Linked DNA regions of Homo sapiens. The protein of the gene in region 1 interacts with the protein of each later gene in a pairwise test. Each region holds a gene or a part of one and is shown in the gene's direction. Other genes may lie near its edges. The genes, in order: TGFBR2, PTN, SNX20 and SNRNP35.

Region 1 (7,408 bases):
ACAAAAATGTTGTAGAAGCAACCAAGGTTCAGTATCCTCCTCTGTAAAACGGGGGTAAGAGAATCTAACTCATACATAGGGTTATTGGAGAAATAAAGTAGATCATGTTTACAAAATAAATTGTCCGGTGCCTAACCCAACAAAGCACATCGTATATGAGTTATCTTTCTTATTGTTACAAGATTTCAAAGGAGGGCTTCTCCTCAAATTCTACACTGCGGAGCTCCCTTCCCACTCCACAGAAGCTCCGACAGCATCCACAGTTGTCCATGTGCAGCACAACAAATCAAGCCAGGCAGATCTCCCATTGGCACTAGTTACCAACTTCCTAGAGAAACCCATCAATCTCAAAATTCCTGCTCTAGCAAGTCCTGGAAAAGAGACTAGAGCCCAAATGCCTTCACTCTGCCAAGGGAGCTTCCCTTTTTGTGTGTCTGTGCCATGGACTTCTTGAAGTAGGGAAGCCTGTGGACCCCTTCTCACTGTGATGTTTTTTAAATGCATAAAATAGAACATGGAGTATTTCAAAGAAAACCAATTACATTGAAATACAATGACCAAATATTTTAAAAATGAATTTGTGTTATAGTAATATATGTTTCTATAATAATGCTTTAAATAACAATAGCAGCAGATCTAAACAATTGAAATGTCTAAATGGTGAGCGTAAGTCACATGCTGAGACGTCTGCAACAACAAACTCATAGGTACAGCTGATACTAGGAAATATTAATTTTTAATTAAAGGTTAGAGAAAATAAAAAAAGATGCAATTTTTGCCCATTCAAATTCACAGACCCACTGAACTCTATTTATGGAACCCAGGCTAAAAATGTTTACTATTATAGCCTCATTTTTTTATGGGCCTTGGATAAATTCCACCCTTATTTTTAATGCCCTTCAGAGCTATATCTGGTTCAATGTTATTACTATTCATGGAAGGTCCCAATAGTGCAACAATTATGTTTTGAGCTCTGCTAAGATCTAGGCCATGAGAATAGGCTCTGAGAAAAGAAAAAGATTTGGGGGTTCTCCTTCACATAAAACTTTTTATTTCCTGGCAGGAAAAAGATGCATATTTACAGAGACACTACTAAACTGTGGTTCTTAGTTCAGAACAAAGGAATATAATCCCCATACCCAAAATATACTCCTTTAGACACATTATACAAGAATTGCCAATGTCAGTCGGTGGATGGCTGTAAAATCACTTAGTCCAGGCTACACTAAAGAAAAACACTTTATCAAATTGGGAGCTTATATAAAGTCATTCTTCCCCTCCCCCGCAACCCCTACCCCCCCATCCCCGCCCGCACAAACACAGGGTCTTGCTCTGTTACCCAGGCTGGAATGCAGTGGCAGGATCATAGTGTGCTGCCGCCTTGAACTCCTGCCTCAAGTAAAGTAATCCTCCTGCCTCAGCCACCGTAATAGCTGGGACTACAGGAAGCACCACAGTGTCTGGCTAATTTTTTTTTTTTTTAAGTTTGTGTAGAGACAGTCTCACTATGTTGCCCAGGCTAGTCTCAAACTCCTAGGCTCAAGTGATTCTCCCGCCAAAGTGCTAGGATTTCAGGTGTGAGCCACCACACCCAGCCTAAGGTCATTGCCATTCTTAGTTGGCTCTCACCAATATGAAGTTTAGAGATCAGGTATGGGGTTGAGATCAGAAGTCTCTCCAATCAGGCAATGCTCATTGTAAATACCAGCTTTGCTGTTGCCTAAATTTATCATCTGGGAAAATTACTTAAACTGTCTGATCTTTAGCTTCCCTATCTGTAAAATGGGGTTTATAATAATAGCAGTTTCTACCTCATAGGGTTTTTCTATCAATTAAATTTAAATATTCTATAAAATCCTTAGCACACAGCCAGGAACTTAGTAAGTGTTCAGTTTATGAGTTTCTCTGTAACTGGCGGCTGATGAAAAGAAGCATTTCCTGTTGGTCTTCGACTAAAGGAGATGCTGGCTTGTACCTACACCAACAGCTGTTGGGTTTTCTAGTAGCAACCCAAGGGTTAATACTGCCAGAGGGTGTGGGTGGCTCCTGTTTAGATAAAGCCACATCCCAAAGCTTCCTTCCAGCCCTGGTTGCTATTGTTAGAGTTTTTCACCACCTCTTTGAAGTTTCAAGATTGACAGATGTTATTCAAGAATTCCTCCCCCTCAAATTTTTTAAGTGTAAGTCTTCTAAAGAAATAACAGGAAATTTTAGGAGAAAGTAAAACTTTGGTTTCTGACATTGAACTGGGGATTTCTAGAATCTTCTTCAGTCAGTGCCACACATAAACTTAAGGGGATTTCTGTTTTTGTGTTTCCTTTAGGCTAAAAAGGAATTGAAATTAGCAAATACGACTGTTTTTATAGATATTTAGGAATTGTAAAATAAAATTATCCATGATGAATCAACATTTCATCTGGACGTTTTAGTGAATTAAGGACAAAGCTAAGTAATTATGCAGTTAATATTTAAATTTTTTCAAATTGTATTTCTCATATGTGAAAAAAAATTGACTACATATTCACATTTGGCCAAAGTGAAGTCTCTCCAGATTCTGCCAATGAGGTTATTAAAATAACACCTCTAGAACAGGGGTCAGCAAAGTTTTTCTGTGAAGGGCCAGATAGTAAATATTTTAGGCTTTCTGGGCCAGATAAGATCTCTGTTGCATGAACCTCTTAGTTTTATTGTTTTTTAAACAACTCTTTAAAAATGGGGATGGAAATCATTCTTAGGTCATAGGACTATACAAAAGCAGGCCATGGACTTCTGAGCCATAGTTTGTCAAACCTTGCTGTAAAATATAAAAAATTTGAGAAGTATCATTCCACGTAAGTAATCATTCAGCTTCTAAAACAAACGTTTGTTGAATACCATAAATTGCCCCATTCTGCCCCAGGTGCTGTGTATATCATGATGATCAAAACAGACCTGGCCACTACCCTGCTTTGTCAGGAGAGAAGCAATCAGATAATCAAGTGGATTTCTGATTATAAGACATTCCATGTAGTTACAGACACAGAGACCGGAGACAAGTGGGTACTTCAAGCAAACACATTCATTGGATACCACATATAATAGAGGTGGAGTTTCAGGCAGGGAGCATTGTGGAAGTGGTAAGCCTAAGTGGAAATGCCGACTGCTGGATCGGCTGTTGTGTTTGAATTTGTGTTGTGTTCATCTGCCCCCTTAATTTTGTTTGCTGTACAACAGGGACAGTCCATACATCTCCACAAGAGCATCTTTTTTTTCTTTTGCATTCAATCATTCTGTAATTGCTTTGTCCCACCCCATTTCTGCCCTACTCTTGCCTGTTCTTTGTCCCAATCCAAGCCTCCCAGTGTAAGAATTTATGTTTTTAAGGATCAATCACCAAATTTTCTCACTTTCCCTATACTTTTAAAATGCATTCATATATCTTTCCAAAAAATGGTGATTTTTTTTTTCCCTCTTGGTTGCTGGAATTCTGATATCTTGGGGTTACTTCTCTGGTTACTAGACCCAAGATTTTCATCTAGAATATATAGTCAGTGGAAGTTGGCATTTCCACTCAGACTTACCTTAAGAACAAGTAATCATATTACACATAAACCTTAAAAATGGATATGTACCAGCTTCATTTCTCACTGTTTCGTTAGATGAAAGTTTCAGATGCTGGGCCAAGCGCAGTGGCTCACGCCTGTAATCCCAGCACTTTTGGAGGCCAAGGCGGGCAGATCACAAGGTCAGGAGTTCAAGACCAGCCTGGCCAACATGGTGAAACCCCGTCTCCACTAAAAATACAAAAAAAAAAAAAAAAAAAAAAAAAAAAAAAGCTGGGCATAGAGGCTAAGGCAGGAGAATGGCTTGAACCCAGGAGGCAAGGTTGCAGTGAGCAGAGATCGTGCCATTGCACTGCTGCCTGGGTAACAGAGCAAGACTCCATCTCGAGAAAAAAAAAAGAAAGTATCAGATGCTGAAGTAGCTATGTAGACTGGGGTATATAACCTGGGGTTCATCATCATGAGCCAGGAAAATTTAGGATATGAACACACATGAGGAGTTTAGGAGTGGAGGTTTAATAGGCAGAAGAGAAGAGAAAGAGAAACAATTCTCTCTGTAGAGAAAGGAGTCTCCAAGCGGAAAGGACGGGCCAGTGGTGAATGTGCTGGATTTTATAGTCCCGTTTGAAGAGGCGGTGTCTGATTTACATAGGGCTCACAGATTGGTTCAATCAGGTATGACGTTTACATAGTGCATGGGGAAGACTGGTCACCCCACCCTAATCTTATTATGCAAATGGGCTTTCCAGTTGATCAGCACCATCTGGTCTGTTCTTTGTTGTACACATGGCTGACAAAGAGAAGGGAAGATGGAGCTGCCATCTTGAACATGTCCTTAGTTCCTGCTGGCATTCACCCGTGCAAGCTCCCAGCTTGCCTGTCTATGTCTGAAGCTCAACTTTACAGGCTGCTCTTTGTTAGAAAATGATTTGGGGCTGCTTTTCATTAAAAAGAAACACCTTACCGAGGACTTCCATACCCTTACTATCTGCCCAAGTAATTTCTTCTTAACTCCTTTATCAGTATCATTTAGGTAATGGGTTCCCCTTGAGAGAATTTGGTTATATCCTCATTCTACCTGGACTATATTCTCATCACTTTTTTTTTTCTCTTTAAACACCTACTGTAGGTGAAAACTGACAAATGAATAATCAAAAGATCCTTTTCTGACACGGAGTTTGGTTCCATACCACCTACCCATTTTTTTCCTTTCTATTCCGCAGGTGCAGAGTGGTCAGTATGGGATAATTGCTCTTCCTTAAGTAGATCATATATTCTTTCTCCTTAACATAGCACTCTTTCCACTCATCACTGACTTTTCCCATTCTTCAGAGACCAACTTAAAGGCAGTTTTTTGCTACTGTGCCTTCCATGTTTCTCTAAGCTTTTCCACATTCCACTAATATATAGATTACATTGTACATTTAGCCCCTATCCCAGATGCCATATATTGCTTACTTGTATATATGCCCTAAGTCCTCTACTGGGTACTCTCTGAGGGCAGTGCCATGCCCATCATAGACACTCAGTAGTGATATATTTAATGAATGATTCTAGGATCTGAGCATGAGGCCTGCTCATTAATGGGTACTTTGGAGGGCAGATGGATGACACATAAAGCAATAGAATTCTGCATGTTTGCCCAATGAAAGCAGCCCAGCACAAGCTCCCAGTGAACTAGAGCTGCCTTTTGCTCTCTCCTGTCCACTGTCTGTTTCTATTCATGTCCTTCTTCCAAAAAGGAAAACTATTTCACCAGAGCCAACAAGGCCAGCACATGAAACAAAGTTTGAGGCACAAGATATTATAGTTAGATATCTGGTGCTAAGGACTCTCCTTGTCAGCCCACAGGGGCCTGCTTCAGAATTCCAAGTCAAAAAACTGCAGCATTTCCATTTTTAACTTGTTTTACCTTTGCGGCCATGTTTCCATTGTTGCTATTAAATATTTCAGTTCCATGAAACTACAATTCGTATGCACACTGAAAAGAGGAATGTTGGGTGGATGTAAGATAACTGTCCAAAGAGATCCTTTCCATGGACTCCTCTCCCTGTCACCCATGGGCCCAGGGTAGCCTGAATGCTGATCAGAGCAGAACAAGTTGGAGTTTGAAAAAGAGCAAAGATTTTGGTGCAAACTGTGGCACGCTCTGTGTTTTTACCAGATGTCATACATGCAGATTTTTTGAAGGCAGAAGCTGTGTCATTTTTTTTCATGTTCCCAATGTCCTGAGCTTAGATAACACTCAGTAAATGGTTTGTCTTTTTATTTGGCAATATTGAGGACCTGCTGTGTGCTAAGTGCAGTTTACAGTAGTGAAGAAGACATGGTACCTTCCAGCATGGAGTTCCCTGTCCGTGGGGGATGGCAAGAGTAGGGAAAGACAGATGTGAAATCAAGAGGTAGAGTCATAGTTCATTTAGTTTAAGTTGTACTGAATTGTTACCTAGGAAAAGTATAAGGTGCTATGAAAATGTATAAAATAAGACAGTTTTCCAAGTTTTTCTAGGCCTCTCTTAAGCAGTGACATTTAAGCTGAAGTTTGAAGGAAGAGCAGGGGATGACGAACAGATGGCCAGAGGCAGGGAAGGCTGAACGAGCATGCACTTGCATCCCTGAAATAAAAATTAACAATATCGTATCTACAAAAACTATGCAGATGCTAAAATCTATAGATGCTCAGGCATGAACCCACTTCCTGACAGTACTTACCTACCACATCCAACTCCTTCTCTCCTTGTTTTGTTTCCCCATCAGAATATAACACCAGCAATCCTGACTTGTTGCTAGTCATATTTCAAGTGACAGGCATCAGCCTCCTGCCACCACTGGGAGTTGCCATATCTGTCATCATCATCTTCTACTGCTACCGCGTTAACCGGCAGCAGAAGCTGAGTTCAACCTGGGAAACCGGCAAGACGCGGAAGCTCATGGAGTTCAGCGAGCACTGTGCCATCATCCTGGAAGATGACCGCTCTGACATCAGCTCCACGTGTGCCAACAACATCAACCACAACACAGAGCTGCTGCCCATTGAGCTGGACACCCTGGTGGGGAAAGGTCGCTTTGCTGAGGTCTATAAGGCCAAGCTGAAGCAGAACACTTCAGAGCAGTTTGAGACAGTGGCAGTCAAGATCTTTCCCTATGAGGAGTATGCCTCTTGGAAGACAGAGAAGGACATCTTCTCAGACATCAATCTGAAGCATGAGAACATACTCCAGTTCCTGACGGCTGAGGAGCGGAAGACGGAGTTGGGGAAACAATACTGGCTGATCACCGCCTTCCACGCCAAGGGCAACCTACAGGAGTACCTGACGCGGCATGTCATCAGCTGGGAGGACCTGCGCAAGCTGGGCAGCTCCCTCGCCCGGGGGATTGCTCACCTCCACAGTGATCACACTCCATGTGGGAGGCCCAAGATGCCCATCGTGCACAGGGACCTCAAGAGCTCCAATATCCTCGTGAAGAACGACCTAACCTGCTGCCTGTGTGACTTTGGGCTTTCCCTGCGTCTGGACCCTACTCTGTCTGTGGATGACCTGGCTAACAGTGGGCAGGTAAGTTAGAGCTAGTGCTAGATCCCCTTTACCTTGAGCCTGGCCTCACCCTACCTCTTGATCCATATCTCCTGGCTCTTATCTCAAACAGCCCTGTACTCTGGACACTGGTCTAGGGAATCTAGCCAAAGTATGGAGTCTGCCTTGAGCATACTCTGCTCTGTCCTGCCTGAGCATTTTTGCTAATGGACAGCATTTCTCCTCCTATCTTCAAATCCTTCCCAGTTCAGCACATTTTTTCCTCCTGGATCAATCCTCATTTCTCTTCCAGCAAATGTTTTTTCTTTGTTTCAAGCACTGTTAGTACTT
Region 2 (7,408 bases), on another chromosome or scaffold:
CTTTGCTAGTGATGTTGAGTTGGGCTTCTCCATAAGGGTGAGGAATGTTTTTAGCTCTGGCTTCTGTTCTAAATGAATAGTCGAAGAGTTTTTGCCTCCTTCTGGCACAAGGTCATGTCACTGCTGTGGGAGGCGAAGTAAGATGATACTCAGATATGAACCTTCTTTTTATGAGCTGGGCTTGCTTTTTTCCATCCAGAGTCAATTGGCTTAAGTGGAATTTGGGCCATGGCCTCGTGGAAAGTTGTTTTTCCTTCTGATGTTTATGGACAATTCAAGTTTCCACCCACTGGGCTATTTTTCCATCCACTTCAAGCCAGTCTAGTGTGCGGCATAGTTTTCATGGTGTCATTACAATATTTCTAGATTGTAAAATATAACAAACCTCTTTTTCTTTCTATTTTGGCATTTAGTAAATAAGAAATTAAAACAGTATCTTAAAAGGGTAGCTATGATGGAACACTATCAGAGGGTATTATAAATATGGGAATATTGTGGACTTAATTATGTAGATCACATTCACCACAAATCTCTATTTCTTCAGGGTGGACAAGGAATACAATGACTCCTTCATGTTTGAGATATTTTTAGGGATAAAATTTAATTCATTTTTCTAGGCTTTATTTATTGAACCATTTTTTCAGAGTGGGTTGAGATAAAGTGATATCTCAAACAGAAAAAAATCATATCCAGTTTTCTAAAAATAGAAGTCTTAGATTTTTTTCAACTTCACACATAGTGTAACAAAAAATCAAGCGCTGTATATTAATCTTGAAAAAAGTGACTCATAGTAACTGATAATTGGGCTCTTAATTCTAAGAATTGCTCTTAGCAAAAGCTAAAACATAATTTTAAAACACAAATAGCATTCTGTCTCTAACCCTTTGCTCCCTTTTCTTCCTGCTTTTACATTTACCTATTTCTCCTTCTTTTCTCTCATTTCTCCATTAATTTGGTTGCCACTATTTCCCACCCAACAGGTCCCAGAACGTCTTGCCCAATTCCCTCTTGCTATGATGGCATACATTTCTCTATGTACGGATGTACCAGGAATGCCTGCCCATATGTTGGCATTCTTGGAAGCTTGGACCTTCCTAGCTGATGTTTTCAACACCAGTGCCCTCTCTACTGATTCAATGGCATTTTTCCCCCATTTTTTTTTTTTTTTTTGATTCAAGACCCTGCCTAAGGGTCAGGCAACATTTTCATCACTGCAATGTTGACCTCATTCTCTTCTCAGTTTCCCAACATCAATGTAGAGGCGCAGCTGGAGTTACTCATGTCCATCACATCGTCTCGGGGTCCTACTCCAACAATACAATTTTTCTTGCTCCTGTGGCCAGCCAATTTAACAATATTTATTGTACGTATGTTGGATGCCTAATACTACATTGTGCTGGACAATGTAGCATGTTTAAGAAATAGAACATGGTGTCTATCTCTATGGTTTCACAATATCTAATACTTTGTGTTTGGTACGTGGTGTGAACTTGTGAAATTCTTTATTAGAAATGTATTTAAAGGAGATCTCAATTAAAATCCATTATACCCTCACCCATCTCTGGAAAAGATGCTTTAAAAGTCACAGATTGCTAATCCCAACATTTTATGATTATCTCATACTGTAACCTCCTTGATATGTTATTGTCTTAATGTTTTCCTAATTTCTTTGGGCACTCCTTTTTTCATGTTTTGTTTTGCTTTTTTTTTTCTTGTCTTCCAAATGTGTACATTTATTTCCAAATATTTCAGTTTCCCGCCTTCCTCTCTCCTCTCCAAATGCTTTAGTATTGTCACAACTCTTCTTTGAGCTTTAACTCCTTCACAAGGAAAATTCTCAGATCTGAAGAGAATTGAAGGAAGATTCTCTCTAATGAGCTCTGGACTCACATTTTTAATATTTTTTCAATGAATACTGAAGGAAATCATTCAGGCACAATTCTATTTGGAGGAGGAGATTGAAGTAAAGGACTTCCTGTTATTTTATTTTTATCCCTACCAGACTTTTACGCATAGTGACTGACATACTATATGGTAGGTAGTGTGATGAGGGAAACAGGACAAATAAATATGTCTTCAAGCAGCTAATGATCTACTCAATATATATGTAAGAACATTAAAACACTAATTACTACAACACAGGTTAGAGGAAGATATGTACAATTGTTGCCCTAAGCAGTTCCAATGACAAAGGGATCACATTTTTATGAGAAAAAGGAAAGTGGAGCTCACAAAAGGCTAAATGGTACGCAACGTCTATTTCAAAAGCATTATGTCTGTTTGTTCCTTTAATGCTGTTTATTCTGGAAGGGAAATTGAACTCCTGATTCCTTCGTGTTTTCATTTCACATTTGCCACATAACGTAGCAGAAACAAATTATTGGAAGTGACAACTTAAGAATTCAGACTGAGTTTATTTAGAATCAATATAATTTTTAAGACATGGCACTCCCTGTAGATGTCCTTTTCAGGAAAATTTATACCAGAAGAGAAGAGTGTCCTTTAATGAAAACATATACATGAAGGGAAAGAAGGCAAATCCTTGTACTTCAGCTGTGGAATTTGGGTGAAATCTTGAGTCGGAAATTGAAGGCACCAAAGGTTTTCCAAGGCAAATGCCCCCTCTAGGTGGAGCTATATTTCTTCCCTTGTCTTCGAAGTCTCCCCATCACCCCTTATAGTGACTTCAGCTCCTCCTTTCTCACCATTTGACACCAGCCCCACCCCATCCAACCTGTGCACCCTATTAAGGCAAGGGCTGTCTCTCATTCTCTCAAGAACCCTAGCATATTTAGCATAGAACCATTGAAGATGGCAAATGAGTGAGAAAATAGGCAGCTCTAAATGCCATTCATTCTCTTTGCCCATGTTGTTCCACCCACCTTGACCATCTGTGTTCTATGCCTAATCCCCTTGCCTTACCAAACAACCTGGTGCCAATTTCCTGTTTAAGCCCAAGCATTCCCATTCTCAACTTTGAACCTCCAGAAACTTCTCCCACTCTCTTTCCTTCACTCCCTTCATTACAAATGTCATATAGGCTTGCTGGTTCTCTACAGTGTCTTCCTAATCATATTTCACCTTGATAATTTTAAACTTTTCATAGTTGCCGATTCAAGACTACCTCCAGAATGGAGAAAACCTTACTTACCTCTTCTTTAACAAACCATATTATTCAAAGTGACAAAGCTAGTAATTTGAAGCATTATTTTCATTATAACTTCTATGTAGCTATAAGGCCTGTTTTTAAAAATGTTTCACATTTATTTTTTCATCATATTTTTGTAACTCTACTCAGGTAGATTGAGTGGGATTTTTAAAAAATTGATACAGAAATGCAGGCTTAGAGAAGTTAAGGGGGCCATATTCAATGACATACAGATATGAAAACAAAAGTCTTAAAATTCCTAGTTTGAGTTTATTCCTCTGTAATATAATGCCATCTCTTTCTTAGGCTAATAAATAGATTTTATCTCCCATTTGTCTCTCATGTCAAACCCCAAATCCAATGTATGTACAGTTAGAGGTCAAATAACCTACAGCAGCAGTTCCCTGTCTTCAATGTTTATCAGATTAACTAGCGTCATGTGTAGGTTCCAGCTGCCTGGAGCCCATCTTCAGCAGTTCTGATTTAAGAGGTGGAATCAAGGACCCTGGACATACGACAGGGCATGTGGATACGGATGAAACATTAGAAACAGTAGCCTTAATCGCTCAATATTTGAGCTCCAAGGTCCAAAATACTGAGGTATAAACCACTGCACTTCTTAGTAGCTCTGTGACCGTGAGCAAATATTGTGGTCTTTCTTACTTCAGTGTTTTCATCTCTAACATGGGAGCACATACCTACCTTCCAGGATTGACGTCTGAGTAGTAATTGAGAAAATCAATGTGAAGTACTGAACATAGAGTCTGATTGCTGGGAGTGTTTGAGCAGGATGGTGAAAATGATGATCATGGTGAAGCAGCACCAGATGCAAGTCCTCACTTCTTCCCCCTCCTGAATTGCTTTTCTTTCTCATGCCCACTTGGCATCTGCAACAAACATACAAGCAAAATCCTAGGTGGAATTCCATGCTTCTTGAAAGGCCTCGCCCCTCCACATGCTCATACCATTTTCTTCCTTCTCTCTAAATGCAGATTGAAAATCCTTTCTTCTGGAAGAAAACATACGGAGCATGTGATCATGCTCAAGGCCTGGGGGTTGGGCAGGCAAAGTCTCCGATGCAGACTCTTTGACCTTATCCCTTCCCATAAGGTATAGGAGAGCATTTTGCATACAGAAGACTCCCAATCCAAGAGACAGGCACTTTATTGCTGACCTTAGTGATGCTCATAACCACATTCTCTCTGACCCCTGCTGATAGAGGCTTCAGTCCAGGGAAGGAGTTAAGGTTTGGAGTCAGGAACCAGCATCTCACCACAGTCCGCCTGTTGTTTGGTATGGGCTGCTGGATGTGCCACTGAATCTTCTGAAATCTTAGGTTTTTTAGCTCTAAGTGGGAAATGATGATGATGTTACTTGTTTTGCCAACCTCATAGGTTGGTGGTAAATGTCAATGGTCACGACGCAACATCTGTAAGCTCTAAACTGTTATACTGAACATGAACTGAACTTAATAAAGTCAGTGGGGCAAGTTCTGCCTTTCTGGTTTCCCAATCCTGCTATTGTCATTGTCATTTTCTCAGGACACACAGAGATTGCCTAAGTTGCTTGAAGGTAAGTTTGACTCACAAAGTGAGGAGGAGGTAAGATGTGCGACAGGAATGAAGAAAAAGAAATGAGTCATACTAAAAAAAAAAAAAAAAAGCGAGAAGACATCTTAAATGAGGCTGAACTGAAACAGGCATGCTTTCTTTTACCTCAGATTATGTTATATTTCCTTCTGAAGTGTCTTAAAAGCTACATGTCACATTTTTTAATTGGTTATTCTCACTAAATATAAGCCTTAGTAATTGGCTAACAGCAGTTCATTTACATGATAGCTGGATAACTGTGCTTCTCAAACTTTCATGTTCATACCAGTCACCCAGGGTCTTTGCCAAAATTCAGTAGGTCTCCAATGAAATCTCAGAGTCTGCTTTTCTGCCAAGCTCCCAGGTGACTGCAGTACTGCTAGCTTGGCGACCTCTCTTTGAGTAGCAAGCCACAACAGTTTAATTCAACAAACTTGAGGGAACAGGAGACAAATCAGAATGCTCCAGTCATGATGTCCATAGCTTAATAAAAATGATGAGGATCATTGTCAATATGTTATATGCAAAAGCTTCTAAAACTTACATCTTTGTGACCAAATAATATTTACAATGTATGATTATTTATGAAAGAAAATTGCAGACACCACCTGATTTGCTATTGACTTCACTGAAGTTCCCTTAAGTGTAAAAAGCCCCTGGCCAGATGTTGCACTTGGGCCTCCTTACCAGTGCTTCTGCTGGGGTCTTTCTCGGAGAGGGTGTAAGTGATCCAAATGTTGCCTTCTTCATTTGCTTTAAAAGCTAATGAAAAGTGTTTAGAAAACTTCATTCTTTTTTTTTTATTATTATTATACTTTAAGTTTTAGGGTACATGTGCACAATGTGCAGGTTAGTTGCATATGTATACATGTGCCATGCTGGTGTGCTGCACCCATCAACTCGTCATTTAGCATTAGGTATATCTCCTAATGCCATCCCTCCCCCCTCCCCCCACCCCACAACAGTCCCCAGAGTGTGATGTTCCCCTTCCTGTGTCCATGTGTTCCCATTGTTCAATTCTCACCTATGAGTGAGAACATGTAGTGTTTGGTTTTTTGTCCTTGCGATAGTTTACTGAGAATGATGATTTCCAATTTCATCCATGTCCCTACAAAGGACATGAACTCATCATTTTTTATGGCTGCATAGTATTCCATGGTATATATTTGCCACATTTTCTTAATCCAGTCTATCATTGTTGGACATTTGGATTGGTTCCAAGTCTTTGCTATTGTGAATAGTGCCGCGATAAACATACATGTGCATGTGTCTTTATAGCAGCATGATTTATAGTCCTTTGGGTATATACCCAGTAATGGGATGGCTGGGTCAAATGGTATTTCTAGTTCTAGATCCCTGAGGAATCGCCACACTGACTTCCACAATGGTTGAACTAGTTTACAGTCCCATCAACAGTGTAAAAGTGTTCCTATTTCTCCACATCCTCTCCAGCACCTGTTGTTTCCTGACTTTTTAATGATTGCCATTCTAACTGGTGTGAGATGGTATCTCATTGTGGTTTTGATTTGCATTTCTCTGATGGCCAGTGATGGTGAGCATTTTTTCATGTGTTTTTTGGCTGCATAAATGTCTTCTTTTGAGAAGTGTCTGTTCATGTCCTTCGCCCACTTTTTGATGGGGTTGTTTGTTATTTTCTTGTAAATTTGTTTGAGTTCATTGTAGATTCTGGATATTAGCCCTTTGTCAGATGAGTAGGTTGTGAAAATTTTCTCCCATTTTGTGGGTTGCCTGTTCACTCTGATGGTAGTTTCTTTTGCTGTGCAGAAGCTCTTTAGTTTAATTAGATCCCATTTGTCAATTTTGTCTTTTGTTGCCATTGCTTTTGGTGTTTTAGACATGAAGTCCTTGCCCATGCCTATGTCCTGAATGGTATTGCCTAAGTTTTCTTCTAGGGTTTTTATGGTTTTAGGTCTAGCGTTTAAGTCTTTAATCCGTCTTGAATTAATTTTTGTATGAGGTGTAAGGAAGGGATCCAGTTTCAGCTTTCTACATATGGCTAGCCAGTTTTCCCAGCACCATTTATTAAATAGGGAATCCTTTCCCCATTGCTTGTTTTTCTCAGGTTTGTCAAAGATCAGATAGTTATAGATATGTGGTGTTATTTCTGAGGGCTCTGTTCTGTTCCGTTGATCTATATCTCTGTTTTGGTACCAGTACCATGCTGTTTTGGTTACTGTAGGCTTGTAGTATAGTTTGAAGTCAGGTAGCGTGATGCCTCCAGCTTTGTTCTTTTGGCTTAGAATTGACTTGGCGATGCAGGCTCTTTTTTGGTTCCATATGAACTTTAAAGTAGTTTTTTCCAATTCTGTGAAGAAAGTCATTCTTAATATGAAAAAGATATATGTAATATATTTACTTAGTGTTAAGAGTCTTCCCTTCTTTCACATTTTAACGTCTATAACTGCATTAGACTCTTTCCTTCCATACCATAATGGAACTAGACCAGGAATCATCCATCTTTGTGACTTCCTTGAAGACGGTGGGGCTGCCCAGAGAAACAGCCAGGGCTTTTTGCTTCAGAGTCCAGATTTAATTAATAAGGAACATATTGTGGTAACAGTCTTAGGTAACACAGAAAATCTTCACTCAGGCTAGAACAAATAGAAGCTATCTTAGTCTGTTTTGTGTTGCTATAAAGGAATACCTGAGG
Region 3 (7,449 bases), on another chromosome or scaffold:
TGGGACCGATACACTCTTGTTGAATTTCTCAAAGAAGGCGTACCAGTGTTGCAGTTCCAAGCATGTCAGGCATCCAGAGCGGTAGTGAGGGGTAGCTTCTAGTACTCAATTGTTTGCTCAATGTAGAATGCTTTGGTGGTAAAAGGACATCATTTAATTTCATGTTGCAATTAGGGAAGCCAAAAATCAGACAGGGTGGTGGCCTGCCCAGAATCACACAATGAGTCAGGGCTGAGCTGCAGCCACAGCCTCGGTGACCACTTCTCTGCATTCACCCCGCCATTCATTCATGCACACAATGACTTACTGAGCACCCACTATGTGGCAGGCACTGTGCTGGGTGCTAGAGACACAGATAATGATACAGACAAAGTCCCTGCCATTGTGGCATTTGAGACAGGAACTGCACAAGTATACAAATAAGCAAAACAAGGACAGATCTCGACAGAGGGGTCAGAAGAAGGCTGCATGGAGGAGCGAAAGTGAAGCTGCTGCTTCATGAGATGAGATGAGATGATGAGATGAGATGAGATGAGATGAGATGAGATGAGATGAGATGAGATGAGATGAGATAAGCCAGAGATGGAAAAACCAAGCGGAGGGTATTTCCAGCTGAAGGAACTGCGAAAACAAAGGCACGTTTGAGCAACAGAGAGCAGTCTGGGTTGGCTGGTGTGTGGTAGGTGACACTGGGAGTGGACCGAGTGACAAACGGTAAGCGGCAGATCATGGAAGCCTCAGCAGAGAGTTCGGATTTACTCTGAATGTGGTGGGAGGCCACTGAAGGGTCCAAATAAGATGGAGAGGTGCTCTGATTTTGAATTCTAGGAGAGGCATCAGATTCTGAGACACTACTAGTATTTCCCCTTTCTCACTCCTGGTGCCTCGTGGTGACCCTCCTCGCCATCTGGCTTCAGCGCTGCAATGGAGGATGCCCACTCCTGTGTCCCCCGCATGACGATGGGACCTTGTCTGCCTGTTATGAACTGAGTATGTGGCCTCCAAGTTCATATAGTTCATATATTGAATTCCTAATGAAAAAGGTGAGGCCTTTAAGAGGTAATTAGGCCATGAGGTTAGAGATCCCTGAGCACTCTCTAGCCCTCATTCTGCCATGGGAGGATAGAACAAGAAGGCAGCCATCTGCAAACCAGGAATCAAACCCTCCCCATATACTGAATCTGTTAACACGTTGATCTTGGCCTTCCCAGCCTCCAAAACTGTGGGAAAGAGATGTCTGTTGTTTAGGCCGCCCAGTCTGCGGTGTGTTGCTACAGCAGCCCAAGCTAAGACACTACCTATGCCTTCTGCCTCCACCACAGAGAACTCTGGCTGCAGAGAAAAAGCAACATCCAACAGGTGGCCATGCGTGGCATCTTCCGGTCACTCTGGCTCAGCTGGGTCCTACCGACATAGGCCAGGCCCCTCTCCATCAGGGGGTTTCCAAGAAACGTCTCCTTTCCCCATAAGAGGAAGTGGCGGCAACCACACATTTTTCCCCTGTGGTTGCCTTCTGCAGCATGAGAGGCTCACAGGGCTGCAGAGAAAGGCTTAGAGTCCACCCTGGTGTCTTGCAGATTCCAGGCCTGGGCAGAGAGTAGGCGAGAAAACTGGAAAGTTACGGGACACAACCCAGGGAGGAGAGGGCATTCCAGCCTCACTGTATGCAGGGAGCCACACCACCAGGCCCTCTGCTGGGCAGGGGGAGGCGGAGATGACCGACCTATGGCCCCTGCACTTACGGGGTGCCCCAGCTAGCAGGCCAGAGGCACACCACTCATGGCACTCCTCGTGAGCTCTGCCCAGAGACAGACCTTTGCAGATGTGGAGGTTCTTAATGACAGTGACGGCACTGCAGAGAGGTGGAATTGCAGGGCCATGTCAATAAGCAAGGTCAATAGGTAAACAGGGACATTATAGAGCCTCCAATGAAAAAGACAAGCAGCAACGGTTTTAGAATAGTAAGAACTGCCAGCACTTGTACAGCTCGGAACAGTGTTGTTCTAAGTGTTTGGCTCATCTGAACTCCTCTTGAGGTTCACAAGCCTATGAGCTTGTTGCAGAAGCAAATACAGGAGAAACCTTCATGCCCTCCAAGGATGACACTGGCTCAAGGCGGAATGTTTTGGCACTAGGAGGACTTCATTAAATTTCATGTTGCAATTAGGAAAGTTGAAATTCAACCATATCAAAGGACTAATATGGTTCTTTAAAGTTGACAACTTCTATTCGTCACAAAACTCCATTAAGAGAGTACAAAATGCAAACTGCAGGATGGAAAAGGATATTGAGAAGCACATAAACCCAAATGAATACATAAAGAACACCTACAAACCATTAAAAATAATCAAGTCAATAATGAGCAATGACCTTGAACAGACACTTCATTGGAGAAGGTATAAGGATGGCAAATAAGCCCATGAAAAGATGCTCAACATCATTAGTCCTTAGGGAAATGCAACTTAAAACCTTGATGAGAGACCACTGCACATTAATGCAGTGGTACACTGAAAAACACTGACCAAACCAGACACAGTGGCTCACATTGGTAATCTCAGTACTTTGGGAGCCCAAGGCAGGAGGATTGCTTGGGGCCAGGAGTTCAAGACCAGCCTGGGCAACATAGTGGCCATGATGGTCTATCCCTCCAGAAACAAAAAAAATTTATTAGCCAAGCATGGTGACGTAACTGTAGTCTTAGCCACTCAGGAGGCTGAGGTGGGAGGATCATTTGAGCCCAGGAGTTCTAGGTTGCAGTCAGCTATGATGGTACCATTGCACTCCAGCCTGGGTGATAGAGCAAGACCCCATCTTTAAAATAATTATAATAATGACCATATCAAGTGCAGGTAAGAAGGTGGAGCACCTGGAATTCTCATATACTGCTGGTGGGAATACAAAATGGCACAGCCACTGTGGAAAATATTTGGCGTAATCTAGCACAGTTGAAGCTATCTATACTCTGAGACCCAGCAATTTCACCTCAGATAAGTACATGGACTTGGATAAATGTGTAAGAATATCATCAGTGGCATTGATCATGATGGCCACCCTAGGAACAACCCAAGTGTGCATCAAAAGACAAAACAAAAAATGACAAATGGTGATGTATTTAAATAATGAAGCAACAGAAAACCAAACACAGCATGTTCTCACTCATAAGTGGGAGTTGAACAGTGAGAACACATGGACACAGGGAGGGGAACATCACACGCTGGGGCCTGTCAGGGGTGGGGGCCAGGGGGAAGGAGAGCATTAAGACAAATACCTAATGCATGCAGGGCTTAAAACCTAGATGATGGGTTGATAGGTACAGCAAACCACCACGGCACATATATACCTATGTAACAAACCTGCAGGTTCTACACTGGTATCCCAGAACTTAAAGTAAAATAAATAATAATAATAATGTAGCAACACAACAATGGAAATGAAAAAAAGTATCTACACAGAAATGCATCAGTGAATCTTATACCCATAAATGTTGCATGAAAGAAGCAAGGCACTGGAGAATACACACAGTATGCATGGTTCAATTTATATAAGATTCACAGATGAGTAAAATGAAACTGAATTGTTTGGGGATCTCATAGGTGGTAAATTTCTAAGGAAAAGCCAAGAAGTAACCCCCATCTGAATCAGGACTGTGACTGCCTCTAATAGGGAGGAAGGGAATCATGGCTCAAAAAAAAACACATGGCAAACTTCTGGGCGAGCCAGCAAAGTTCTATTTTTTTTTTTTTTGTCTGATTTCTGTTTCTTGCCTTCAAGGCCACAAAGATGGGTGGGCATGAATCACACCACACTGCCCTGGGGTTTCGCTTCCCTGGGACTTTCTGTTGGTGGTGATGGATACAGCTTTGCTCAGAGAAAAGGCACCAGATGGAACTGTAATTCTACCCCACTGCTCTTCTATGTCAGTCACTGGCTCTGTGTCCCACCAGCTCTGTGATCCAAGCCTCGGTTTTCCCATCTGTTCAAGGGGCATGACGGCCCCCATCATGCCTAGCTCATAGAGTAGAATAATGAATGTTAAAGGGCTCTGGGAGCTAATGCCTGAATTCCAGAGATCAACGGGGACTCGAAGGACAGCCAGACCTCTGCAAGGCGGCAGGGAAAGTGAGGCTGAGCTAAATCCCACAGGGCTGGCCCCACACCGCCTTGCCCTTCCCTGCGCTACCCGGAAGAAGAGGTGGGTACAGCTGGCAGGCTGGCAGTTGAGTTCAATATACCATGTTTCACCAGCCAATGGGCTGGGGCGATCAGAAGCAGGTCACACAGCCTGTTTCCTGTTTTCAAACGGGGAACTTAGAAAGTGGCAGCCCCTCGGCTTGTCGCCGGAGCTGAGAACCAAGAGCTCGAAGGGGCCATATGACACTCCTCCCGGACCCCTGGACACACACAGCCCTGGAGACTGGAGGTCAGTATTTGATCCCAAGCTCAGCTGTCCTCTGCCTGCTGTGGCCTGAGTCCCCTTCTCCTGGGGCCCTGCCTGGCACCTGCTGGGGGCAGGGTGGGAGGGGGAAGAGTTAGTGACAGCCACTGTGTCTGGAGCTCTCCTTAGCACACTGAGGCAGAGGAAGGGACAGCTCCTGGACCTTCCATCACCTCCATTCCTTTTGAAATGCTAGGCGCTTGTACAACCCATCTTGGGCCTGGAGAATAAGTCACCACACCTGTGTTTCTCAAAAGAACAGTGTCAGGGAACCCCTGCCTCAGCACAGCCTTAGAGGACTCATGGAAAATGCAGAATCCAGGCCTGTTCAATGGCACCTTCCTATGTTAGCAGCCAGGAAACCTGCTCTTGGACAAGCCCCTGGGATCCCACCCCCACCCCACCAGGGGATTCTTACACACACTGGGTTGGGAGCCCCTGGCTTTGGCAAGGCTTCTCAGGTGAGCGTCCAGTTGTTGGAGGGTACCCACCCTTTCCCCAAGAGAGGCAGCCACACATCCAACATCCTGGGATCTCTGTCTCCCAGCGTGGGCCATGTGCTTTATTTCACCCCCTAGAGGCTCATCCCCCATGAAAAGTCCTCCGCAGGCCCTCAGAAAGATAGTGTGGCCTCTGTGTGCCCAGCAGAAGAAGGACTGGACTTGGCAGTCAGCTCTTGGAGAGGGGGTGGTTAGGACACCTGGGGACAGGAGGAGGAGAATGACTGTCTGTGCACACACGGCTGGAAGGCAGAGGAGGCTGGGAAGCTGCTCTGTCCCCTGGGCCAACTACAGGCCCCCAGGCCAACAGCAACAACACTTTTAGTATTTTGTTATAAAGTCAAGAAATCTTTGCTACAGAGGGTGAGGAGAGGGAAGGAAAGGGCCATGGAACCGTCTATGTGGCTATCCCCAGAGAGCTTTTAGAGTGACAGGATTGCTTTCCCATTTCACAGATGAGGAAACTGAGGCCTGGAGAGGGATGGGAAGCTACCCAAGGCCCCATGGATACACCAGTGCACAACTCTTTCCTTCCCCCTCCTCTTTAAATGGGTGACTCCCAATGAAACCTGTAAGAGACAACCATAAGGGAGCTGACTGTGGCTGCTGAATTTGATTTTATTCTAAGGCCTGGTTTTATAATCAGCTTTCTCAGTCTTTACTGGAGTGTCAAGCCGAGGCATCATTTCTAGGGTCTTACAGGGTCTCTGGGCCAATAGTGCCCTGCTTCTGACCTGGAGCCAGCTGCCTGGTCATGAAAGCAGATCTGCAAAGGCTGGGGCCCCTGAGGCCAAGGCCACTCGCCATCACCCATTTTACAGAAGTGCTGAGCATAGGAGTGCCCTGGGCCCCCAAGAATCCCAGCCACCAAGAATCACGTAAACCATCCACTGTCTCACTTAGGCACCAGTCAGAATGTAGGGAACCCACCCCTAGTCATCCATCATCTTATCAACAGGACGGGGCTTGTAGCCACATTTATCAGGTAGGGAAACTGAAGCCTAGAGATATTAAAGCACTTGCTTAAGGACACACGGTTGGTCAGGATGGAAGGCGATGTCTCCTGACTCCCTGACAGGCACAAGAGACAAGCGAGAGGTGCCCGTGACGGCATGCTCAAGAACGTGCAGCCCTGGGCCAGCCAGGCCCCTGCTCCGTGCCTCTGTTTGCCCATCTGTAAAAGGTGAGGTTGGATCGAGGGTCCCTGAGGGCCGCCCACTGGATGGCTGTGCAGAGCCAAACGGAGAAGGCCCCAGGGTTCCTTTCACCCGACACAGCAAGCACTTCCCCCTGAAGTGCAGGCTCCAGGCCCCAGCTGACCTCCCCTCTCCCAGGCCAGCGGCTCTCACCCCTGGAGCAAGGGACAGGCGCTGGCTGTGCTCAGGGACATGCATGACTCCCGCCCCCATCTGTGCTCAGGGGGTGCCAGGGAGGCACTGGCTCTATCTTTCTCTAGGCCGTAGTCAGCCCAGGGGTTCAGACCAAGAGCCCAGAATCCAACAGATCAGAGTTCAAGTCCCAGCTCTACCTCTATGTTCCACTGGCAGCTTCCTCAGGTCATTTGCACCTTCCTTGTCTTGAATTTCCATGCCTAACCAGTCAGTATACCAGCTACTCCCTCCAGCCGATCTAATGTTTTAATTGTCCCTTTCTCTAAGTTGTCTCAAACATTTGTAATTCTATTCCAATCCACCTTAATTTAGTCATTTATTTCACAAATATTTCTGGAAACATCTAGCACTTAACAGACACTAAAAGCGGGGGTACTACACAGTCCCTGGGATGGACAGGGCCCTGAGCTGAGGCTTCAGAGTCTGCCTGACTGAATCCTCACCCCAGCCTTGTGAACGTGGGTTCTGTTATTATCCCCAATTTATAGGAAACAGAAGCACAGAGAAGTTGAGTCACTTGCCAGCTACCAGGTCATCCCTTCCACTTATCCGGGTCACAGACAGAGTTATTATGTAAACCAGATCCCAGCTGCCTGTTCTCCCTCCCTGAGTAAGGTGGAGAGAATTCTGAAGTCAGCCCAGCCTGGGTCTGTATCCTGCCCACCACTCACCAGCTCCTCATCTTTGGCAACTCTAAGTCTCAGTTCCCTTATCATAAAAGGGAGATGTAAACAGTCCTGAGTGCAGACAGTGTTCAGGTTAGTGCAAGAGTGTGTGCTGGGTGTGAAGTGCACAGCCAGCACGTCACAAGCACTGGAGACAAATTCAGCTTTGCTTGTTGCGCACACTCACCAGCTGCGTGACTTTAGACCTCAGTTTTCTCATCTGTTATGTGGTGGTAATGATAGACTTTTGTGAGCATTAAACTAGATTAGGGGCTATGGAGAACCTAGATGGGTATGAAGTGGGTATAATAAGCTATCAGTTAATTTTGCTGATAGATAGATTATTGATTGATTGATCGATAGAAGATTCATACCAGTATCTACCTGCTCTGAACACTGACCTTTCTTTTTTTCTTTTTGAGATGGTCTTGTTCTGTCACCCAGACTGGAGTGCAGTG
Region 4 (8,241 bases), on another chromosome or scaffold:
TATATATAAATATATATAAATATATATATAAATATATATATAAATATATATAAATATATATAAATATATATATATTTATATGGTAGCCACTAGCCACATGAGGCTATTAAGTGCTGGAAATGAGGCTGGTACAACTGAGAAGCTAAGCCTGTATTTATTTATTTAAAACTTTAAGTTTTTTGTAGACATGGGATTTTGCTAAGTTTCCCAGGCTGGTCTTGAATGCCTGCACTCAAGTGATCCTCCTGCTTTGGCGTGAGCCACCGTGCCTGGTCTAATTCTTTTTTTTGTTTTGTTTTTCTGTAGAAATGAGTTCTCACTATGTTGCCTAGGCATGCTCTACTTTCTGGGGAGAGGAGTTATCTCCATAAGTTATTTGCAATTTTGCGTGGAAGATTTGCCTCTTCTCCCCACTTTATTTATTCAATCACTTATTTATATCAGTAGGGACTGGTGGATATTTATTTATTTATTTTGAGATGGAGTTTCGCTCTTGTTATCCAGGCTGGAGTGCAATGGCGGGATCTCGGCTCACTGCAACCTCCGCCTTCCGGGTTCAAGTGATTCTCCTGCCTCAGCCTTCTGAGTAGCTGGGATTACAGGTGCCCGCCACCACGCCCTGCTAATTTTGTATTTTTAGTAGAGACGGGGTTTCTCCATGTTGGTCAGGCTGGTCTTGAACTCCCGACCTCAGATGATCCGCCTGCCTTGGTTTCCCAATGTGCTGGGATTACAGGCATGAGCCACTGTGCCTGGCATTTTTTTTTGTTTTGTTTTTCCTGAGACGGAGTTTCGCTTTTGTCGCTCAGGCTGGAGTGCAGTGGCACGATCTCTGCTCACTGCAACTCCCTGCTCCCCGGTTCAGGCGATTCTCCTGCCTCAGCCTCCTGAGTAGCTGAGATTACAGGCACCCTCCACCACGCCCGGCTAATTTTTTGTATTTTTAGTAGAGACAGGGTTTCATCATGTTGGCCAGTCTGGCCTCGAACTCCTGACCTCACATGATCCACCCTCCTTGGCCTCCCAAAGTGCAGGGATTACAGGTGGGAGCCACCGCACCTGGCCTGATATTTATTTTATTATTATTATTTTTTGAGACACAGTCTCACTCTGTTGCCCAGACTGGAGTGCAGTGGCGCAATCTCTGCTTACTGCAACCTCTGCCTCCCAGGTTCAAGCGATTCTCCTGCCTCAGCCCTGTGAGTAGCTGGAATTAACAGGCGACTGCCACCATGCCCGGCTAAGTTTTGTATTTTTAGTAGAGACGGGGTTTCACCATGTTAGCCAGGCTGGTCTCAAACTCCTTGAGATCAGGGTGGTCCGTCTGCCTCGGCCTCCCAAAGTGCTGGGATTACAGACGTGAACCACCGTGCCTGGCGGATATTTATTTTATGTTTTGGGTTATAATCCAGTACCACTTAATTTACAGTATTTTGTTGCTCATACTGTTTCCACTCTGGCCATTAGGAGTCCTTTCAGTTGGTTCAGCACTCCCTGTGACATCATCATCATTGGTGGGGTGTTTCATTTTTAGCACTACCTTACTTTCTGGTACTACAAGTTGCTTCAAGATCATCTTGTGTATTTCTATTTATTTATTTATTTACTGAGACAGAGTCTCGCTCTGTTGCCCAGGCTGGAGTGCAGTGGCGCGATCTCAGCTCCCTGCAACCTCTGCCTCACAGGTTCAAGCGATTCTCCTGCCTCAGCCTCCCGATTAGCTGGGATTACAGGTGCCTGCCACCACGCCTGGCTAATTTTTGTATTTTTAGTAGAGACGGGGTTTTGCCATGTTGGCCAGGCTGGTCTCAAACTCCTGACCTCAGGTGATCCGCGCCCACCTCGGCCTCCCAAAGTGTGGGATTACAGGTGTGAGCCACCGCACCTGGCCTATTTATTTATGTTTTGAAACAGAGTCTTGCTCTGTCGTCCAGGCTGGAGTGCAGTGGGGCAATCTCTGCTCATCACAACCTCAGCCTCCTGGGTTCTAGTGATCCTTGCACCTCAGGGTCCCAAGTAGCTGGGACCACAGGCGTGTGCCATCACACCTGGCTAATTTTTGTATTTTTATTAGATACCCGGTTTTGCCATATTGCCTAGGCTTGTCTTGGACTCCTGACCTCAAGCGATCTGCCTGCCTCGGCCTCCCAAAGTGCTGGGATTACAGGCGTGAGCCACCATGACTGGGCGAATTTTTTATTTTTTATTTTTTTGAGACAGGGTCTCGTTCCAGCTGGAGTGTGATAGCACCATCTCAGTTTACTGCAGCCTCAAGCTCCTGGGCTCAAGCGATCCTCCCACCTCAGCCTCCTGAGATGCTGGGAGTACAGGCGTGCACCATCAGGCCTGGCTAATTTTATACTTTTTGTAGAGACGGGGTTTCACCATGTTGCCCAGACTGGTCTTGAACTCCTGAGTTCAAGTGATCCACCCGCCTCAGCCTCCCAAAGTGCTGGAATTACAGGTGTGAGCCACTGCACCCAGGCTTCTTGTGTATTTTTTTGTCCCAGTTCTAGAGTCAGCTATTTCTCCAAGGAGCACTGGTTACTTTCATTGGAGAATGATATCAGAAACCAAGATCCGGGTGCTAGGTTATGCTTATTGCTACCAGGGTACACAGACATTTTAATGTATGTGTAACATAAAATTTACCTTTTCCACTGTACTTTCATTTATTTATTTATTTATTTTTGAGACGGAGTTTGCTCTGTCGCCCAGGCTGGAGTGCAGTGGCGTGATCTTGGCTCACTGCAACCTCCGCCTCCTGGGTTCAAGTGATTCTCCTGCCTCAGCTTCCTGAGTAGCTGGGATTACAGGCACGCGCTATGACACCTGGCTAATTTTTGTATTTTTAGTAGAGATGGGGTTTCACCATGTTGGCGTGGCTGGTCTTGAACTTCTGGCCTCAAGTAATCTGCCTTCCTTGGTCTCCCAAAGTGCTGAGATTATAGGCGTAAGCCAACGTGCCTGGTTCTTTTTTTTTTTTTTTTTTTTTTTTTTGAGATGCAGTCTCGCTGTGTCGCCTAGGCTGGAGTACCATGGCGCAATCTCGGCTCACTGCAACCTCTGACTCCCAGGTTCAAGCTATTCTCCTGCCTCAGCCTCCCAAGTAGCTGGGATTACAGGTGCCCGCCAGCACACCCAGCTAATTTTTGTATTTTTAGTAGAGATGCGGTTTCACTATGTTGGCCAGGCTGGTCTTGATCTCCTCACCTCGTGATCCTCCCAACTTGGCCTCCCAGTGTGCTGGGATTACAGGCCTTAGCCTCCTCGCCCGGCCAGTCTGTTTTAACTATTAAATAACATTAGGTAGATTCACATTGTTGTGAAACCATCTGTACTATCTATTTCCAGAACTTCTTCATCATCTCAAATTGAACCTCTGTATCTGTTAAACAATACCTCGCCATCTTCCTAACACCCACAGCAGCCCCTGATAACCACTGCTGTACTTTCCAACCATGAATTTGACTATCCTAGGTCCCTCATATAAGTGGAACCATACAGTATTTGTCCTTATGCTTCTTTCACTTAGCATGGTTCATCCATGAACTACGTTCATTCATGATGTTGTAGCAATTAGAATTTCATTTCTTTTTAAGGAGAAATAGTATTCCATTGCATGTACTGTACATACCACGTGTGTGTGTGTGTGTGTGTGTGTGTGTGTGTGTGTGTGTGTGTGTGTGTGTTTAAAAGCATAGGGGTCAGCCAGGTGTGGTGGCTCACGCCTGTAATCCCAGCACTTTGGGAGGCCAAGGCAGGCAGATCACTTGAGATCGGGAGTTCAAGACCAGCCTGACCAACATGGAGAAACCCCATCTCTACTAAAAATACAAAATTAGCCGGGCATGGTGGCACATGCCTGTAATCCCAGCTACTCGGAAGGCTGTCAGGAGAATTGCTTGAACCTGGGAGGCGGAGGTTGCGGTCAGCCGAGATCGTGCCATTGCACTCCAATATGGGCAACAAGAGTGAAACTCTGTCTCAAACAAAACAAAACAAAAACAAACAAACAAACAACAACATAGGGGTCTTGCTCTGTTGCCCAGGCTGACAGGCTGAACTTGAACTCCTGGCCTCAAGCCTCACGACTCAGCCTCCCTAGTAGCTGAAACTGCAGATGGCCTCCACTGACAGTGGCTACCATATATTTTCAAACATAAAATTTTAAGCTATAGATTTTTCTTTTTTTTGAGACGGACTTTCACTCTTGTTGTTCAGGCTGGAGTGCAATGGCACCATCTCAGTTCATCGAAACCTCTGCCTCCCGGGTTCAAGTGATTCTCCTGCCTCAGCCTCCTGAGTGGCTGGGATTACAGGCACATGACACCATGTCCAGCTAATTTTGTATTTTTAGTAGAGAAGGGGTTTCTCCATGTTGCTCAGGCTGGTCTCGAACTCCGAACCTCAGGTGATCCGCCCGCCTCGGCCTCCCGAAGTGCTGGGATTACAGGCGTGAGGCATGCCACCTGGCCTTTTTTTTTTTTTTTTTTTTTATAAAGAAATTGGGGCCGGGCGCGATGGCTCACGCCTGTAATCCCAGCACTTTGGGAGGCCGAGGCGGGCGGATCACTTGAGGTCAGAAGTTCGAGACCAGCCTGGCCAACATGGCAAAACCCTGTCTCTACTAAAAATACAAAAAATAGCCGGGCGTGGTGGCGGGCGCCAGTAATCCCAGCTACGCGGGAGGCTGAGGCAGGAAAATCACTTGAACCCGGGAGGCGGAGGTTGCAGTGAGCCGAGTTCGCACCACTGCACTCCAGCCTGGGCGACAGAGGGAGTCTCCGTCTCAAGAAAAAATAATAAATAAGAATAAATAAATAATAAAGTAAAATGTCCCAGGTAACTGCATATTCGATAGTCTTTCTTTCAACTTAGTTGTTGAATTAGCAATTTTTCTCTTAAAAAAATTTTTTTTTAGCTTATTGTCTTCGGAGATGATAACACCCTCGTTGCGTGGGAGTAAAATTTTAAAGGTAAAACAAACAGGAAACGAGCGTCGGCGGCGAATCTGCTGCTACCAATGTAAAGGTCAGGCCGAGGCCGGCGCGGAGAATCTGCTGTCGCCTGCAGCTGCTCGCCTGTCTCCGTCGGAAGGGAGCCCAAGCTTTGCAGAGGTGAGTGGAAGCGGCTTGGAAGGAGCGGGCCCCACGCCGGAGAGAAGGAAGAGGGAGTGCGGCCCAGACGCTGTGCCCGCGCTTGTGTGGGGCGCCATGTTGAAACCTGGCAAAGGGGACGACATTCTGGGTTGCGTTGCGGGGAGTGGGGACGAGAGCTGGATTGGAAGGATGGCGCCTTACTCCCTGCGGCCCCCAGAGAAGGAGAGGGGCGGGGGAGCGGCCTCGAGGGTTGGCGGCCAGGCTGCAGGCTGGATGGGAAGGATAGGCTTTTCCACAGAAACTTAGGTGTTTGCCTCCGAGGCCCACTGCGCATGCCCTGGAGGGCTCTGTGGGTTCCGCCTTCAGTTTTGCTTTTCACAGGAGGGGCAAAGTCTTTTTTTTTTTTTTTTCCTTTTTGAGACAGTCTTGCTCTGTCGCCCGGGCTGGAGTGCAGTGGTGCGATCTCGGTTCACTGCAACCTCCGCCTCCTGGGTTCAAGCGATTCCACTGCCTCAGCTTCCCGAGTAGCTGAGACTACAGGCGCCCGCCACCACGCCCTGCTAATTTTTTGTATTTTACTGGAGACGGGGTTTCACCATGTTAGCCAGGATGGTCTCGATCTCCTGTCCTCGTGATCCACCCGCCTCGGCCTCCCAAAGTGCTGGGATTACAGCCGTCAGCCACCGTGCCCGGCCAGGAGGGGCAGAGTCTTACCCCGAAGACCCAGGAAGGAGAGGCTTCATTTATTTTTTTGTTTTTCCCCAGAGACAGGGAGTCGCCCAGGCTGGAGAGCGGTGGCGCGATCTCGGCTCACTGCAGCGTCGACATTTCGGGTCAAGCAGTCCTCCCGCCTCAGCCTCTCAAGTATCTGGGACCACAGGCGCGACCCCACGCCCGGAGAATTGATTATTGATTGATTGATTGAAACGGGGTCTCACTTTGTTGCCCAGGCTGGTCTCGAATTTCTGGGCTCAAGCGATCCTCCAGCCTCGGCCTCTCAAAGTGCTGGTATTACAGGCGTGAGCCAGCGCGTGCCTGGCCAAAAATTTTCTAAATTTGTATAATAATTTATAATTGTAATGCATTTTTATAGACACCATATGATCTAATCTTCACAAAAACCTAGTGAAGTGACATTTAGCTACATTTCACAATAAGAATCCTGAAGCTCAAAATTTACTGACCTCAAATAATCCACCCGCCTTGGCCTCCCAAAGTGCTGGGATTACAGGCATGAGCCACCGCGCCCTGGCCCCCACCATTCATTTCGGCTCTCATCCCCTGTTGATGAGTAAAATGAGAATGAGGCCCAGGCGCGGTGGTTCACGCCTGTAATCCCAGCACTTTGGGAGGCTGAGGCAGGCGGGTCATCTGACATCAGGAGTTTGAGACCAGCTTGGCCAACATGGTGAAATCCTGTCTGTACTAAAAATGCAAAAATTAGCTGGGCGTGGTGGTGTGTGTCTGTAATCCCAGCTACTCGGGAGGCTGAGGCAGGAGAATCACTTGAACCTGGGAGGCAGAGGTTGCAGTGAGCCGAGATTGGCCATTGCACTCCAGCCTGGGTGACAGAGTGAGACTTTGTCTCGAGTAAAAAAAGAGAATGTAAAAATCGAAAGAGATTGTTGTAGGAAATCTCAACCTAATGCTGCCGGGGAGGAAGTGCACCTAGAAAGATTAATGAGAAACAATGAAACCAGCTGTTAGTATCTATAGAAGCATGCAGATGAGAGAGAGAACAAAATCCATGCTTATCCGTTTGTAATTCTCCTCCATTTTAATTTGAAGAAGTCTTAAAGTTTTGAACAGGAGCTCTGTGTACAATAATATCAGTTTTATTTGGTAGATCCTTGTGACTCCTGACTTCAAATGATCCGCTCATCTTGGCCTCCTCAAGTGCTAGGATTGCTGGCGTGAGCCACTGCACCGGGCCCCTTGTGACTTTTTAACGTTGAATGGGGAGGGGTTCTTTTCCTTCAGGAGAGGAGGGGTGGGTCTCAGCCTCAGACACCCAGAATACTGGTTTGTGTGTTTTCTTTTTCCTATCTTTATCTCCAAAACCTTATATTTTATGAAAAGCATCAGAGGAAACGATTAAGAGCTTTAGCTCTGGAGTCCACACTGCCCCTGGTTCTAACTCCTCCACTGGGCTACTTCTTAGCTTTAGGATTTGGGGCACAGGCTGCCTTTTTGTGTCTGACCTTTTTCATCTGAAAAGGCAATAATAATATAGTACCTAAGTCCTGGTATTGTTGAGAAGTGAGAGGAGTTAAGAGGTTAGTACAGGCTGGGTTCGCTGGCTCACATGTGTAATCCCAGCACTTTGGGAGGCTGAGGCAGAAGGATAGCTCATGCCCAGGAGTTCAAGATCAGCCTATGCAATATAGTGAGACCCCATCTCTACAAAAAAAAAAAAAAAAAAAAAAGCTGGGTATGGTGGCGCATAGTGAGTAATTCCAGGTACTCAGGAGGCTAGGGTGGGAGAGGCTGCAGTGAGCCATGACTGTGCCACTGTACTCCAGTCTGGGCAACAGAGCAAGACCCTGTCTCAAAAAAAATTCAAGCGATTCTCCTGCCTCAGCCTTCTGTAGCTGGGATTACAGGCATGCACCACCATGCCTGGGTAATTTTGTATTTTCAATAGAGACGGGGTTACTCCATGTTGGTCAGGCTAGTCTCGAACTCCCGACTTCAGGCAATCTGCCCACTTTTGCCTCCCAAAGTGCTGGGATTCAGGCGTGAGCTACTGCGCCTGGCCTTTTTTTTTTTTTTTTTTTTTTTTTTAAAAACAGAGACAGGGTCTCACCATGTTTCCCATGTTGCCCAGGCTAGTCTCGAACTCCTGGGCTCAAGGGATCCTCCCATTTTGGCCTCTCAAAGTGCTGGGATTACAGGCGTGAGCCACCACGCCCAGCCTCTTCTTTCTTTTTTTTTTGAGACGGAGTCTCGCTCTGTCGCCCAGGCTGGAGTGCAATGGCGGGATCTCAGCTCACTGCAAGCTCTGCCTCCCGGGTTCACGCCATTCTCCTGCCTCAGCCTCCCGAGTAGCTGGGACTACAGGCGCCCACCACTACGCCTGGCTAATTTTTTTTTTTTTTTTTGTATTTTTAGTAGAGACGGGGTTTCACTGTGTTAGCCA

What was found.
Region 2: the proteins of TGFBR2 (region 1) and PTN interact in binary tests that used the Homo sapiens proteins (3 or more experiments, as listed by UniProt).
Region 3: the proteins of TGFBR2 (region 1) and SNX20 interact in binary tests that used the Homo sapiens proteins (3 or more experiments, as listed by UniProt).
Region 4: the proteins of TGFBR2 (region 1) and SNRNP35 interact in binary tests that used the Homo sapiens proteins (3 or more experiments, as listed by UniProt).

What each region holds. Positions count from the first base shown.
Region 1 is NC_000003.12:30,665,339-30,672,746, forward strand, and holds part of TGFBR2 (TGF-beta receptor type-2 isoform B precursor), read left to right. Parts: intron 1-6,299; coding exon 6,300-7,099; intron 7,100-7,408. UniProt on the Homo sapiens protein: Transmembrane serine/threonine kinase forming with the TGF-beta type I serine/threonine kinase receptor, TGFBR1, the non-promiscuous receptor for the TGF-beta cytokines TGFB1, TGFB2 and TGFB3.
Region 2 is NC_000007.14:137,333,331-137,340,738, reverse strand, and holds part of PTN (pleiotrophin isoform 1 precursor), read left to right. Parts: intron 1-7,408.
Region 3 is NC_000016.10:50,678,161-50,685,609, reverse strand, and holds the start of SNX20 (sorting nexin-20), read left to right. Parts: upstream 1-4,297; 5' UTR 4,298-4,420; intron 4,421-7,449.
Region 4 is NC_000012.12:123,453,097-123,461,337, forward strand, and holds the start of SNRNP35 (U11/U12 small nuclear ribonucleoprotein 35 kDa protein), read left to right. Parts: upstream 1-5,042; 5' UTR 5,043-5,120; intron 5,121-6,607; exon of another isoform or gene 6,608-6,792; coding exon of another isoform or gene 6,793-6,804; intron 6,805-8,241.